Linked DNA regions of Homo sapiens: region 2 is linked to region 1. Evidence: fine-mapped expression QTL. Tissue or cell type: whole blood. Region 1 holds a variant in brackets; the other region holds the start of a gene. All regions are shown on one strand. Distances are from middle to middle.

Region 1 (8,100 bases):
TGTAAACCATGGAGCATCTGTACCGAGCTGACTCCAGGTAGCTGGAGGGGGCCGAGTGGCCTCAGTGCCTTCTATTTCCCACCAATGATGAGACGAGCCAATGCATGCCACCATCTCTCTGCACACCATGGTAGGATGGGGTGAAAGCTGGGAAGCACTGCTTGAGGCCCCAAGAGTTGCATGCCCCACCATGGACAACCCGTCCCCATCTTCACTCCCTCCACTCCTCTTGCTTCCCAGACACCTCAGACCCTATCTAACTCCATGTTTTTGTACTTGCTGTCTTCTCTACCTAAATGCCCTCCCTATCTGCTCATATCTTCCTGGCAAACTCCTACTTACCCCTCAAAGCCCAGGTGTTGCCTCTTCTGTGAAACTCCTCTGAGGCTCCAAGCCTCCGGGCCTCTGCTCCATCTCTCATTTGTGCTTCCTTCTGCCCCACTGCTCATTCCTGTTGACTGATGGTCTATCCTGCTATAGACTGGGCCCTCCCCAGAGCTAGAGACTGGGTTTCATTGTTGTTTGTACCCCCTGTTCCTAATGCAAGGCCCGGGGGGCTCAGACCAGGGGCTAACCATTTTTGTTGGTTAGCTAAATGAGCAAGGTAAGTGAGTGAATGAATGAGCAAATGTTTTCAGCTGCCAGACCTAGGGCAGAGGCCAGGATGGTCTCTCCCCTGAGCAGAGCACAGTCCAGAGGTGGTGCTGGCACAATGGATGTTCCAGTGGTGGAGGCGACTCTGCAAAGGTGGGCCAGGTGCCTGCTGCTGATGGGCGGGTGGAGGCCTGCCTGCGCCCAGCCCTCCTGCTTCCTCTAATCCCGCTTCTCCCCCTGCACCTCGGGCTGCCTCCTGGGGGCCAGTCCCACCCTCATTCCTCCCCCAGGCTTCTGCCAGCTGAATTATCCTCTCTGCTATCTCCTTCCCTCAGATGTGCTTGGGGGCTGGGGTGGGACACTGGGGTAGGAGACAGGTGATGGCCCTCACTGCTCTGGGGAAAATTAATTAGCCTGGGTTCTGCAAGTCACTTTGAAGACAAAAAAAAAAAGAAAAAAGAAAAAGAAAAAAAGAAAAGAAAAGAAAGGAAAGGAAAGAAAATACTCGCATGGGCCAACTATTATCGTGAGGTGAGGCTCATCGCTCCCCTATGCTAGGGCAGGGTACGCACCCATCATTCCACTCCATACCTGTTTTTCTAGAAAATCCATCTTCTGAATCTCAGCTCTCTGGTGCACGGTGAAAAAAGGCACAAGGAAAGCTGCATTGGTGCCCTCTCTGGGTGGGCCCCACCTGCGGAAAACTGATTCCCAGTTGCTGCTGGGATCCAGAGCTTCAGATCTGGGTTAGAATTCCCAGCCTCCTGACCCCTGCCTGGGGCCTGGCCTCTCTAATGCTTCTGGCATACAACAGGTGCTCAATAAACAGAGCTCCCAGCCTCCTGTCATTGTCTTGGGATGGAGCCGACAGCATCCACACAGCCCCAGGTCAAGGCTGAGCCTGCTGTCAGGGCCTGGTTTCCCGGCTGCCTCCCTAGGGACCACCCAGCCAGCCTGCCTGCTGCACTCCACTCCAGCTCAGAACCGCAGAGCAGCTGACAGCCCTGGGCGTGAGGATGCCAGCTTCCTCCCCACAGCTGGGAAGGCCTGGCCAGACCTCAGGGTGGACCCTTGGCATTAACACCCCCAGACTGGAGTTGTCTCCTTGACATACCCTGGAATGCTCTCCCTGCCCTTTCCCAAGGTGGAAACTGAGGCTTGGAGGGGTCTGGTCTCTGGTTAACAGATACCCAGCCAGGCTTCCAGGCTTCCAACCCCAGCTGGGCTGGGGGAGGGGGTGGCTGACAGGCAGGCAGGTGAGGTTTGGCAGAGGGAAGGTCTGGGAGCTTTTTAGGGCTTCAGAAGTTTGGCATGGGGAGCCGGAGGTGAGCGACGCTTCCTTCTTGGGACCCTCCTGCTCTCTGGTCTTGGCAAACCTGCCAGGCACAGGTGGGCCTCAGAACCAGCCCGTTTATAGCTCCAGGTGAGCGCTCATGGGGCCCCCCACTGAGGAGTTGGGGAGGAAGGCCGGGCCGTGGGCTCCAGATGAAAGGCCAGAGGCGCCCCTGCTATCTCTGCTGCTCCTCACCTGGTGTTCCTGGCCGGCTTCATTACCTGGAAAACCAGAGGGCTTCTCTTTTCTCCACCCCTACCCCCACCCGGGCTCCGCCCTCTCCAGCCGAGTCTCCTTTGCCTTGGAAGATGTATTACAGTGCCCAGTAGGTGCCAGGCCTGCACAAGGCACTGCAGGGGACCCTTGACAGAAGGACTGGGTTGGTGGGCTTCGTCTAGAGCAGGCCCTTCACGCCTTTGAGCCTCAGTTTCCTCTTCTGTAAGGTGGAGATAAGAGTCGCCTCCCTCACAGAGTTCCGGAGGAGACAAGAGAGATAGAGAAAGAGCTGAGTGGAGTCGTGGCCCTATCTTCACGGGACCCCCAGGTATTGGTTCCCAGCAGCCATGGGCTTGGCCTGTGCAAGGCACCTCAGATAAAGAGAGGAGGGGGCCTTGGACTCTGTCTCTGGAGGGAAGGCAAGATGGCTGCTTACTGCTTTGTCTGACAAATAATTCTCGGCACCTACCTGGTGACAGACCCAGTCTGAGCCGGTCTTTGCCTTAGGGAAACTTTCAAAGTGATACAAGAGATTAAAACCTGCTGATGCTATGGGGAGGGAATAACAGTGACCAGCATTTATTAAGCACTTACTGTATGCCAGGCCCTGTTTCCAGTGCTTTTCATGTTTTAACTCACCTAAGGCTCTCAGCCAACCACAAGGTTGGTATTTTCACAGGCTGAGGACACCACACGCAGCTAGGAAGTGTAAACTTAGGATTTGAACCTGGGCTGTTGGGCCCGAGAGCCCCTTTCAGAGAAGGCTGAGGACTTCTGAAGAAGTGTGGCTGCAATGCCGTAAAGGAGAATGGAAGAGGAACTTGGGAGAGGCCTTGCTGTTCCTTCTAGACCACCACCCTCTCCTGCTCACATGCCTTCAGTGACTTCCCAGTGCCTACAGGACCAGTGCAGGGCCTGGGGCTCCTGACCCCCATGCCCTCCGCTGACCTCACCCTTCACGGCTGGCTGTGCCCTTGCCTCCCTCACAGGGCTGTCCTGCCTTTTCTCCCTTTCCACAGGCCCTGCTCTGGCGTCCAATCCCAATCTCCCAGCTTCCCGGGTTAGGGTCAGTCTGAGCAGTGGCACCGTCTCGTGAGTTTCTGGTCCTGCCAGCCAGACGCACTTATGCCAGGAGGTTCAAGGGGTGCTAGTTTTTAAAACTGGGATTGTTTTATCACATTTTATTGTCTTTCTTGGTTAAACCCTTGAGTATACAGTAGATATATATGCATAGCAGAAAACCTGGAAAATAGGACAGTAAAAGACCAGCAAAGACTCAGAATCCTGCAGCCTTCCCCAAGAGTTAGCTGCTATTAACAGATGGGATCTGGCCAGTACACCTTTTCTTTTCTTTTTTTCTAGTAATGCATATTTTTAAAATGCATTTTCCTTTCCTATTTCAGGGTTTGTTCCCCAGGTGATCAGTGAGTCCTTCTTGCTTCTAGCCTAAAACTCTCGTATGGGGTTTTCCCTCCAGAGTGGGGAAGCCCTGAGAAGATGCCATTCTGGGTTGCAGGGTGGGCAAGAAGAGGGTCTTCCCTGACATGCGGTCAGAGAGACCAGGGGTTCTGAGTATCCCATGAAATGAGGACTAGGGGGTCGCTAAGTGACCTCTACAACCTGGAAGGCCCATTCCACAGGGCAGGCGCCTCTGTCTGTCTCGTCCATTCTTTAATCCCCATAGCTACAGCAGT[A/G]TGGGCTAGGAACAGGCACTCACTAAGTATTTATTGGATGAATGAGGCCGTGGGTTCTGTACAGAGCAGAGAATATGCAGACCAGAGGGGAGAAGGCCTTGCCCATGGCCCTATGCTCAGGAGTCAGGAATCAGAGGCTGGGTTGTCCCTGCACGATGGGGTGGGGGTGGGGAGCCCTGAGGCCAGGATAGGGTGCTGCAGCTTCCTGGTGGGGTCAGAGGCCCTGCCCAGCCCCCTCCCACCATAGGGCAGAGGAAGTGGAGGCTGCATGTCAGAATGCCTGAGGACAGCCTGGCTGCAGAGCCATTTATCACCTGCAGCAATTCCAGGAATGTGGAAATAGGCCAAAGTCAGAAAAGCTTGGAGGGTGGGAGGCCAAGAGATCCCCCCAACCCCTTTTTTCAAGAAGTAGAGAAGCCCAGAGCCTTGGCACCTGGGATGTGTGTTACCTGAAGAATCAGACTCATGGAGCGTGGGCTAACTTTTGCTTTTAGAGGATGCCCACCACGTGCCTGGCACTGTGCAGTGAACTTCACACCTGGCCATCTGGGGCTAAAGCTTGTGCAGTGATGCCCTGTGCTTTCTTCAAACCTGAGCCAGGCTGGGGCCAAGCTGTCTGCCTAACACCCTGCATAGCTCCCGCCTGCTGAGAGGAAAAGTGGAATTCTCACAGAGGCCACAGCCCTGACTGAGCCAGGTCTCCTCCAGTCTCCCTCCTGCTCACTCTGCTCCAGCTGCTGCCCTGAGCCTGCCTCAGGGCCTTTGCCCCTGCTGTTTCTTCTGCCTGGGGTAAGTCTTCCCCATTCAGCTGCCTGGTTTATTGCTTTGTTTCCAGGGCCCTGATCAGAAATCACTTCCTCCGAGAGGCCTTCTCCGACCACCCTTGTATGAGAAACACCCCTAGCTGCTCCGCAGTCCCCTAGACATGCACTGTCCAATACAGCAGCCACAAGCAATGTGTAGTCTTGAGTACCTGAAATGTGCCCAGTGACAGTCCAGGTGTGCATAATGTCCAGTATGCACTGATTTCACAGACATGGCATGAAAACGACAAAATAACTTATTAATCATTTTTTGCATTGATGGCATGTTGACATGATAATATTTGGACCTAATAGGTTAAATCACCTATATTGTTAATATTAGTTCCATCCGTTTCTTCTTGCTTTTGTCCAAGCAGCTATGAGAAAGTGTAGAATTACACAGGTGCCTCACACACTGGGGCACCATCACCTGACCTGGTTTTCTTCCTGGCCCTCACCCGTCTGCCACATCGCGGGTTTACTTGTTCATCTGTTTATTATCCACCCTCCCCAGGAAAACACCAGCTCTGTGAGGGCAGGGATTTGTGCCCGTTTTGTGGCTGCTGTACCCCACACATGTAGAGATTATGAATGAATGAAGGGGTGCCCTGTGCCCGCATTGTGCTCAAGTGCTTAACCTTGAGGGAAGGCGGGGAGGAAGGGAGGGGTGAGCCCACGGTGGGTGGCCAGAGTACTACAGGGAGATGAGAACTGATCTCGGGTCCAGACACTGCCTCTGCCTATGGGCGGCAGGAGCCTCAGTTTCCCTGTCTGTCCTATGAGGGTCTTGTTTTCTGCCTAAAGGTTCAAAATGGGGTGTCCTCCATGAGGCTGTCTTGGGAGCTCCAGCGGGCAGGGGAGCTGGGCACAGCCCTTTCCTGACCAGCACCAGAGCTGGACAGCGGATGAAAGGAATCGCCTCCAGAATGAGCCCACTGTCTTCACCATTCCTATGGAGGTGGTGCGAATGCAGGAGCTGAGACTGGCTTGGGCAGGAAGTCTCCAAGCCTCAGGGTGGGGGCGGGGGCCAGAGGGGCTTGGGGACACACAAGTGGACATGGCACGGGGGGTCCTTGAGAGGGATGTCAGATAGCTCCAGTGAAGTGAGACGGATGATGGGAGGGTGTCAGAGGGGCACTGTTGGCTTCCAGGGCAGGGGTGGCCACTGCTGGGGTTGATAGAAGAAGGACTGATTCCCAGGGGCAGACGTGTTCCCACTGGTGAGAAGGCTGCATGGGTGTCTGCAGGGCAGGGCAGGGCAGCCCAGGGGGAGAAGAGCCAGGCAAAGGTGTAGGGGTGTTTGGGGCAGCAAGGAGGACGATGAGGCTGGGAGCTGGGGACCCTGGGTAGTGGTGGAAGCTGGCAGGAGGGCTTGTCGGGGGCCTGGCTGCTCCCGAGTGGATGTGGCCTTCCATAGACTCTGTGGTCATGGCGGGCATGGTGGCTGCTGCTCCCAGGGTACTCAGAATGGGGCCACCTGGAGTGATGAGGAGAACAAGGGACCCTGGGTATCCCTGCTGCAGGGGTGCTGGAAGGTCAGCCAGCCACCAATCCAGCTAAGATAGTCCCCGCAGAGGATGGCTGGCCAGCCCCAGCTTGCACACCTCCCAGCACGAGGCAGTTGCTTCTTCACAGCGGCTCAGGATGGGGATAGCTGCTCTCCACAGGGCAAGTTGAGTTTGTCTTCCTGTGACCCTGCCCCTTCCCAGGCCAGGACTCTGTCCTTGGGGACAGAGATGTAAAACAGCCCTACAGGGACTGGGGACCATGATGAATTCTCCAGCTGCTCCTTGAAGCCTATCTCCAGCCTGGTTCCTCCTCCGGTGACTCCCTGCCTGTCTCTGCTCTTTCTGCTGGGAGATGCAGACGGGGAAGAAGCCGCATTCTGCAGGACCAGGGGGTGGGGTGCCCCCAGATTACCTGTGACTTTGGGCATGTCATAGCCCTGCTCACAGCCTCAGTTTCCTGCTCTGGGAGGTGGGTATGAATCACAGAGCTTCCCTCGCAGGGTGAGCGTGAGGCCCTTGCAAATGGCGCCAGGCCTGGCCCCATGGGATTGCTGGGCGCGCTCCCCTGCTTTCCTGGGGAGCTGGGTTTTGAGTGTGGGCTGCCAGGCGGGCGGGCAGGCGGGCAGGCCTGGCCCGTTACAGGGATTAATGGGTGGCTGGCTTTGGAATGATCACCCCCCATACATGGGAGGTAGGGTGGTGGGCAGCCAGGGAGCCAGGAGTGATTCCACACCTGCACATAATTACCAAAGGATCTGCCTCCTGGGAATTATTTTTATCTTAATATTTTATGTGGTTCCAAAAATTGGGAGAGGGTTGAGCAGGGCCTGGGACACAAGCAGCAGGGGTTGCTGGGGGCACTAGGAGGTCACTGCCCCTCATGGCCACCTGTCCAGGCACCTGGCACTGGAGTTTGCCTGCCATCGGGAGAGGATGCCCAGCTGCTCTGGGGCCTGCAGATCATCTGGGAAAGGTGAGAGTCCATTGGAGGCAACGGAAGCCCTGTGCTGCTGTGGCTGGGAGAGCGTGAGTGTGCACACGTGTGTGCACGTGTGTGTGTGCAGTGTAGTGGCTGCACACTGCAGTGGCTGAGCGGAACTGGATGTGTGAGTGAATTTAGATGGGACATATCTGAGCAGGTGGGTGTGCATCTGAGTGTGCTCAGTGTGTGTGTCAGGGCAGCGTGTGCCTGCGCATCTGAGTGTGTCTTGGAGGAGGGCGGGGGTTGATCTTTAGTGGGGGCCGACTGTGGGTGCGCATGCACCACAGCATGATGGTATGTGTCTGTGCTGTGGGGTTGTCGGTGCATTTGGTTTGGGTGTGTGGCAGTGCTGGACTGTGAGTGTGTGGCTCAACTGGGCAGCTACTGGAAGAGGTGGGGAGACTGTGTGTGGGGTGGGATGTGTACACGGTGTGTGCTTAGCACCACGGGGAGGTGCTGAGTCAGTGGCAGTGAGGGAGAGAGCTGTGAGTGCGCAGGGGTGAAGGTGTGAGGGCTATTTGTGTATGACTGGGTGGGTATGAGTATCTATATTTGGTCTGAGCCCAGATAGGGTGTGTGTGTGTGTGTGTGTGTGTGTGTGTGAGAGAGAGAGAGAGAGAGAGAAAGAGAGAAAGAGAAAGAGAGAGATGAACATGTGTGTGGGATGAGTGGGTGGGTGTATTTGCAGCTGTGCAGTTTTATGGTTCCTACTTGGGTTGAGGGACCCGTGGCTGAGTGCCTGTCCTATTGCCTGGCTGGGGCTGACCACCAGTGGGTGTGGGATTGCCCAACAAGTGAGGTGCCTGTAAGTGTTTAGCAAGGGTGCGATCTGGGCTCACGGTGACCTATACCTCCTAGGCTCAAGTGATCCTTCTACCTCAGCCTCCCAAATAGCTGGTAACACAGACATGCACCACCACGACTGGCTAATTTTTGTATTTTTGTAGTGTTGGGGTTTTGCCATGTTGCC
Region 2 (8,100 bases), 110 kb after region 1:
AGATGGAGCATTAGGCCAGCAAGGGGGCATGGCCTGGGAACCCTTCGTAGGTGTCCAGCACTGGCCACCCCACTGCCCCCAGCAGTGGTCTCCCAACTTTTTTGATCCTGCACCCCTAACTCATGTCCATTCGAATAGAAACCCTATAATTTCTACATAGGCTCTTGAATCAATGCGTATACCCAATATCAGTGAAACATACACACACTTGATTTTTGTTTTAGAAACAAAAAAAGATGATGTATGTCACAAACATTACATGGAGTAAAAAAGGCAAGTTGCCTTTGAGTTTATGGTAGGATGCAATTGAGATGAAGTTCAAAAACATGCAAAAGAAGCTCTATATTGCTAGGGAATCATCTCTTTGGTAAAATTGTAAAGGCAAGCAAGGAAATGATGACTTCAAAGTTTCATGCAGCAGGTGCCTTTGAAGGAGTGATGGGTGCACAGATGTTCATTAAAAAAATCTGTTTTTTAATGTATATGTAACATATACTCTCATGTATGTATATGTTTTATTGTTGGAAAAAAAACTTAAAAAGTAATTGTAAGTAGAAGTCCTGGCATTTTCTTCCTGCTGTCAATGGAGTACATGTATCCCACTCCGGGCATGACTGGCCTAGAGGATGTGTGCGACTATTATGAGGAGAATTCCTATCTTCCTCAACTATTCACTGATATATATCGGATACCCATCATGTGCCACGTACCATGCTAGGAGACAGCTGTGCACCTGACAGGCAATGCCCTGCCCTCAAGGAACTAGGGAGGGTGACAACACAGATGTCACAAATGAATAAAACAGGCCATCTCGACAGTGATATGTACTATGAAGAAAGTAAAGGAAGATGCTGGGATGGCAACTGGGGTGTGGGGGTGGTGAGGAAAGTGAGGGCCACTTTAGCTGAGGTGATCAAGAGGACTTCCTTGAGGAGTTGACATTAGAACAGAACAGAGATCTGAATTGCCAGGAGGCATCTGTGGGAAGATCTGGAGAAGGGTATTCTATGCAGAGGGAACAGAAAATGCAAAGTTCTAGGAGACAAGTTCGGGGTCTTCAAGGAATAGAAAGAACCCATGGAAACTGCTACAAAGCCAGGGCTTGAGATGCAGGGAGATCCTGGGAAGAGGAGATGGCTGAGGGCTGGCATTTTCTCAGGTGCATCAGGCAGCACCAGGAAGCACTGAAGGGTGTAAGCAGGACACTGACATGACCTGGTGGTCCCCACTCCATGTAGGAAAGACCTGTGGGGTGCCAGAGCAGGAGCAGAGGGACTAGGCAGGTTAGGGTTGGTGGTGGCTTGGCTTGGTGGCAGTGGTAGGGCTGCAGGTAGAGCCACTGGACAAGTGCCTCGTCCTGGGGCTCAGCTGTGGGCAGTTTTCTGGAGTTGCAATTTGTTAGAGTGAGGTTCTCCTGTACCAATAACTCAAGGAGGTGACATGGACCCATGCCCTCCAAGCGCACAACTGATCACTCCTGCCGTTTCCCTAGGCTCCTGCCACGTGCCAGCCTTCTCCCTGCAGTAGGCACTCTGTCCTTGCTCCTCCTCTCCCTGGAAGCGCTCTCACCCCTGATCTTCACAAGCTTGGCTTCTTGCCATTATTCACATGACCTCAAGGGTCACCTCCCTGACCAGCCCAGCTAAGGGCTCCTCCCTCCCCTCCCTACCCCTAATAAATTCCCATCACAATCTCTGTTTTGTTTACTGGATATTCTTGATTACTCATGGTCTACTGAAATGTTTTCATGTCTGTGTTTTTAATTTGCATGCTCACTTGATCACTTGTCTTCCTCCTGAGAGGATGAGCTCCCTGAGGGCAGGGAGGCTGTCTGCTGGTTCACTAAATGACTGCTGAATAAATGGATTGTGGCACTTCAAAGATGTGGCTCCGGGTGAGTACCTATTACATGGCAGGTGCCCCCCAAATATGCATCAAATGCATCAGTAAACTTGGGCAGTGTCCCTACTATGTGCCAAGGCAGTATGGTGGGTGCTGCCACAAACAGCAGCTCATGTGACCTTTCCACACAGCCCTGTGGGGCAAGAATCATCACATCCGTTTCACATATTTGAAAATTGAGGCTCACAGAGGTTGGGACCTGGAGGAAGGTTCTCAGCTAGCAGGTGTTGGAGGTGGGACAGCCTGGCTTTGCACTGGCATCTCAGCGCTAAACCCGAGTCTAACACACACTAGAATGCTGGGAATGTCTGAGGAAGAAGCAGCATGAGAAGATTAAGTGGAGACGTTTTGGCATCATTTGTCAGGAGGACCCTCTGAGCACCTAGCTGGCCACCAGGAAATTTCTACACCAGCTGAGAGTGGATAGGTTGGCATACTGGGGCCAAAAATTCATAGGTGCAATAGACTAGCCCCTAAGGGTCTGGCCTAGGTTCTCATCCAAGCTTCCTTCACTTATTAGTTGTGCGATCTTAGGCAAGTTTCCTTCCCTCTGCACTTCAGTTTCTCCATGGCTAAATTAGGGTATTGATAACTAGTCCCCACCTCATTGGCTGCTGTGAAAATCAAATGTGCTAGAACATGGAAAGTGCTTAGAAGGTGCCAGGCACATAGTGAGTGCCCCATAAATGTGGTGGTGGTGTTGTAATTATCATTATCGTTATCGGATCTGATTGTTGCAATAGGCTAGTGCGGAGTCACCTGAACTATCCGAGCAAAATAAGAATACCGCAGATGCCCCACCATCAGCCAGAAGCGGGTAGAGCCGTCACGTCTGGGGAAATGGAAAAACCTTTTAGGGACGTTGAGACTTCACCCCTCATGTCCACTATACAGATGAGTAGCCCGAGGCGCAGGGAGCAGCAGGGCCTGGCCCGAAGTCACCTGCAACTCCCACCTCTCCGACCTGGACCTCTCCCTACCCCAGAGGGCAGCTTGGGGCGGAAAGCCAGCGCCCTGCAGGACTCCCTCCCTCCCTCCCTGCCGGGCAGCTGGGCCCCCGCAGGGCCAATCCGGGGAGGCCGCGGCGCCGGCGGGAGGGCGGCCCGCGGGCGGGCGGGGCGGCCAGGGGAGGTTATTTTCTGCTGTTTTCCCTTTCTGTCTCCCCCGCCACCCGTGTCCCTCCTCCCCGTTTCTAATTAAAAAGGAGATAAAGCCGCACGCGGCCCGAGTCAATCGGCTCGAGCCAATCGGCCCTACTGGCTTCCTGGATGCTGAATGTGCGCGGGGCGGCGGGGCGCGGGCCAAGATGAAGATTAAAGCAGGGGAAAAAAAGGAAAGCCACCCAGACGCGGGCGAATCAATAACACTTAAAACACACCGGCAGGCTGGCGGTACTGGCGCGAGCCCCGCAGCCGCCTCTCCGCCGCTGGTCGGGCTGGCGGCCCCTGGTCGGCTCTGCACGCACCTGCTAGCGGCCGCGGCCGGACAACTTGCGAAATCCCCGCTCCAGAGACGTGGACTGGGGAAGTGACGGGGTAGGGGGGTAGTAGTGACAAAACACAAAGGGTCTGCCACGCACATCCCCTCGCCGCAGCCCCTGCGGTCCACCCCTCCTCAAAAGGGATGGTAATGGGTTCACTGCTGGGGGCTGGAGGGGCAGGGTGTGTGAGACCTACCAAGCGGGCCCTTCAGCGCCAGAACCTCTATCCATGCCCAGATCCCCCCGCCCCCACACCGCTCCGAGCCTCACACGCGTTGTCTTAAGTACAAAGGGTGACCGGCTTTGCACAAGCAGCTCCAGGACGCGTCCCGAGCTGCCCCCTCCCACCTTCCAGCCAGAGCGCCCCCGAGCCCCACCTCCACAGAAACGCTAGGTGAAGCCGGAGGGCTGCTCGCGCGCCCGGCCGCCTCTGCTGCCCAGTTCCAGGGGGCGGGGTGTCCCGCCTCTCTCTAGCGCTTGTCTCCCTCTGTGTCTCAGACCGCCTCTCGTCCCACCTTTGTGTGTGTTTGTTGGGGGTGGGACGTGCTGTCCCCTTGGCCCGGGAAGGGGCTCTGGGAGTCTAAGGGCCCCTGGAAATTGGGTGGTGCCAAGGCTCCGAGCGGCGGTTTATGTTTTTGCCAGCGAATGTCCTTCCTCCTGGGTACCTGTTCCCTGTTTGCACGGACCGGCCCCGCCAGCCACCTGGGGACTGCCCAGTCTCTAGGAACGGCTGTGCCGCGCCTCCTGAGAGAGTTCGTCTCGGGCTCCGGGGACTGAGCTCCCCGAGATTGGCTGTGGTCCTGGCTTGATGTTCCTGCTAGACCTGCTGTCCCTATGCCCGGGTCCGAAGGGTCCCCGGGATGGGCTGAACCTTTGCAGCAGCTAGCCCTCCCCCAGAGTCCCTCAGGCTGGAGCGTCCCTACCGGCTGTCTCTGGTCCTGGGGGATTCCAGACTCAGACGTCCTCAGGATGGCCAGTCCCCCTGCCTATATCTCCTGGGGTGTCCTGCGGGGGGCCTTTGTGCGTCCACCGCTCCCACACCGCACCCACCCGGCCTCTCAGAGAAGCTGTGGAAGTTGGCCGGCAGAGGCTCGCAGGCGGCACACCTCCCTCCCCGGGCCGTGCCAACTTTGTCGAAACACGCGCGGAAAGGGCGCAGGCAGCCCTTACCCGATCCGGAGGTAGACCATGCCCAGGCTGAGAAAGAGGTGGCCCAGGCAGCGCCGCGCTTTCCGGTTCATAGTCCCGATTGGCCGCCGGGGCCGCGGGCCGGGCTGTGCTGATCCCGCGGGCCGGCCCCGGCGGGGCAATCAACATAGCCCGCCCGGGAGGCGCGAGCCGAGGCGTCCCCGGGGCCGTCTGTCGGTGCGCCCGTCCGCGCGCTCCGCGCCTGAGCCTCGCCAGGAGCACGGGAGCCACGGAGCGGGAGGAGGGAGGGAGGAGCGAGCGCGGCGTGGGGCGACGCCGGGCTGCGCGCGAGCGACCGGTGCAAGTGTGCGAGACGCGGGGAGTGCGGGGGCGCTGCTGCCTCCAGCCCCCGCCCCTCCCTCCTTTCCCCCGTCCCTCCCCCGCCCCCTCCCCCGCCCGCCTCCCCGGAGCGCCCGCCCAGCGCCCCTGCGCCCGCGGGACAGGGCCGCCTGCACAAGGCGCGCGCTCGCGCCTTTCCATGCGCGCTCCCGGGGGCCCCCTCCCTGCTCCGGGGTGCAGGTGGCAGGCTGGGGAGCACAGCCCGGTTGGAGGCGGTAGGAGCCCGCTCGCCCCCCACCCGTCACTAACTTGCAGATTGCAGGGCGAGTGGGCGTCCAGAGGCTGCCCTCGGGTGGAGTGGACCAGACTCGGCCGAGAGGCCTAGTGCCTTGGTCTGCTGCCCTGCTCCCTCCAGCCCGGAACAGGGAGCTGGGGCTGACAGGGCACACCCCAGTTCCCCAACCCCAGCTTCAGGGGAGGGCGCCCCCTTTCGCGGAGCGACGGGCTGACTGGCTCAGTGTATTTCTTCCCTACTCCCACCTATTCGAGAGTGGCGGCAGGGGGTGCCCAGGTTGGGCAGCCTCCTCTGGGATCCTGCTGTTAGCCGACAGACTGAGTCGGGCTGAGGCCCAGTTGCCCCGCGCGGAACAGCAGTGGGGCGCCTGAGCCGCGGGAGCGTGAGGGGCGCAGCTGGCCGCTCAGAGCGCGCTCGCGGCGTCACCAGGCGGACGCGGCGGGTGGTGCACCTCGGCCTCGCTCCCGGGAACAGAATGCTTTGAGTGCCCTGGCCGACCCGAGGGGGCTAACACCCTTCTTTGGTGTACACCTCATCCAGTGAGCTAGGGGGAGTCTAACCGTCCCTGGAAATTGGGTGGTGCCAAGACTCCGAGCGGCAGTTTATGTTTTTGCCAGCGAATGTCCATCCTCCGGGTACCTGTTCCCTGTTTGCACGGACCGGTCCCGCCTGCCACCTGGGGGTTGCCCAGTCTCTAGGAGCGGCTGCGCCTGCGCCTCCGGAGAGTGTTCCTCTCGGGCTCCAGGGACTGAGCTCCCTGGGAGTGGCTGTGGTCCTGGCTTGGTGTTCCTGCTGGACCTGCTGTCCCTATGCCCAGGTCTGGCAAATCTGAACTCAGGTTTCAGCTGAAGACACTGAGGCTCAAGGAGGTGAAGGTGTTTGCCCAGAGTCACCAGCTAGCGAGTGGCACAACCATATGGGAAACAAAGTATGCCCAACTGTAGTAACCTCCTGCACCCAGTCCTGACTATCCTTCAAGATTGCCTTTCTAAATTACACACACACACACACACACACACACCCGAAAGCCACCATTCAGGTATTCATTCATATTCCATATTCTGTGCCAACCACGATAGTGGGCACCGTGGACACAAGGAAGAAGAAAGGCAACAGTCTTTCTTCTTGGGGCCAGGAAGGAGACAGATGATAAGTGAACAAGAACAGAGTTGCAGATAGTAGACCATTAAGCAGGGTGATGGGAGAGGGAATACTGGGTGTTGGAGGGTTAATTTTAGATCTGAGGAGGTGGCATTTGAGGTGAGGCCTGAAGGACACAGCATCAGGGGTCCAGCACTGCAGGAAGGGGACCAGCAGGTGCAAAAGCTCAGAGGTGGGCATGAGCCCCAGGGAGGAGATGGTGGGCTGCAATAGAGAGAGAGAGAAGGCCTGAGCTTGAAGGGAGATGGGGATACACAGATCCACAAAGCTGTGTGGGCACGTCAAGGAGCTTGGATTTCAGTGGTGTGTTCAGCTGGGGACATTGGAGGGATGAAGAAGGGGGTGACTGATCTGATTTGTGTGTTCAAAAGCTCCCCGTGGCTGTCCTAAGGGAACACACTGTGGGAATGGGGACAGGTGAGTAAAGTGCGCCATCAAGCAGACCAGAGAGGAGATGACAGTAGGGGTCCAGGTGAGACATTGGTAGTTTGGGTTAGGGTGGTGCTCTTAGAACATGACCACAAAATTATTTGACACTCCTCCCATGAAGAAGTGGGTTCTCTGTGCTCTGCCTGCGTGAATCTGGGTGGGCTTGTGATGGCTTCCACCAATAAGATGTAGCAGAAGTGATGCTCAAAAATTACAAGTCTTCGCGATAAAAGACAATGCAGTCTTTGTTTTGTTGGCTGGCGCACCAGTGCTGGGGCCCTGAGCCACCATGGAAGAGGCCTAGAGGCCACCATGCTGTGAGGAAGCCCAGGCATAGGCAGAGGCCACCTGTGCTTGCTCCAGCCCACAGTCCCAGGTGAGTTCAGCACTGGAGTCACCTTGCCCAGGTGCCAGAAATGTGGGTGAAGGTACCTCCACCATTATGTCATGCTGGCTTTGTGTCTGCCAAGCTAAAGCATGGTGGACAGTGGCCGTGTAGTATCCCCAGTGTACCCTGCCCAACTTCCTGAGCCCTATAACTTGTGAATATAATGATTATTTTGCCACTAAGTTTGGAGGGGATGCTTGTTACACAGCAGTTGTAACTAGGACAATAAGGGTAGAAGTGGGGTGCAGAGAGGAGAAAAGGACCCAGGATACGGGGCCTGTGTCTTGCACAGACAGGACTTGAAAGGATTCGGTGGGGGTGGGTAGAGAAAGAGAAAGAGGAATGATAGGTGACCCCGATGTTGGCTGGAGTATTTGGGTGAATGGAGGTGGCTTGTAATGATCTGGAGATGGTTGGAGGAGCTAAGAGTTTGGTAAAGGAAATCACAAGGTCTGTCCTGACCATGTTCTTCCCTCCTGCATTGTTCCTCCTCCTCTTCCTCCTCTTCCACCCTCAGATGAAGTCAGCACAAGCCCTGAGCAGTCTACCTCCAAAGAATCTCCAAATATGACCTTTATTTTCTGCATTCACCATCATTCCTAGACCAAAGTTTCACTCATGTCATGAATGCTGGGGTGTACTTGTGACCGGATGTCAGGCCAGGTGCTAGGCACATACCAATAGCCCATGCAGGTGCTGGGTACATCGGAAGATGAGAGAGGAGGAGGAGGAAGAAGAGGAGGAACACAGCAGGGAAGAATATGGCCAAGACAGATCAGTATATCAAATAAATCCAGTCTCTGCCCCTCCTGGAGCAACCCATCTGAGGACCGATTTCATGATCAAACACATAGGTAGCACTATTACATGCCAGGCACTGTCATTTACAGCCTCAGCATATCAACTCACTGAATCCCCTGAAAATGCCAAGGGGTAGGTACTCCACTTGTTGATATCATTATCACAGCCATCATTATT

Evidence for each region. PIP is the estimated chance that this variant, and not a neighbour inherited with it, causes the effect.
Region 2: WNT7A starts here. The variant in region 1 is fine-mapped to the expression of WNT7A in whole blood (INTERVAL, PIP above 0.99).

The regions. Positions count from the first base shown.
Region 1 is chr3:13,766,490-13,774,589 of GRCh38, forward strand. No RefSeq gene overlaps it. Among named protein-coding and RNA genes, the nearest start is that of WNT7A, 110 kb to the right of the region's middle. RefSeq lists an enhancer at 6,840-7,340. The variant A/G (reference allele first, on the strand shown) is at 3,838.
Region 2 is chr3:13,875,194-13,883,293 of GRCh38, forward strand. WNT7A (Wnt family member 7A) reads right to left here and starts at 4,878. Exons shown (of 4, transcript NM_004625.4): 1 at 4,553-4,878. The coding sequence starts at 4,623. RefSeq lists enhancers at 3,351-3,852, 4,355-4,856.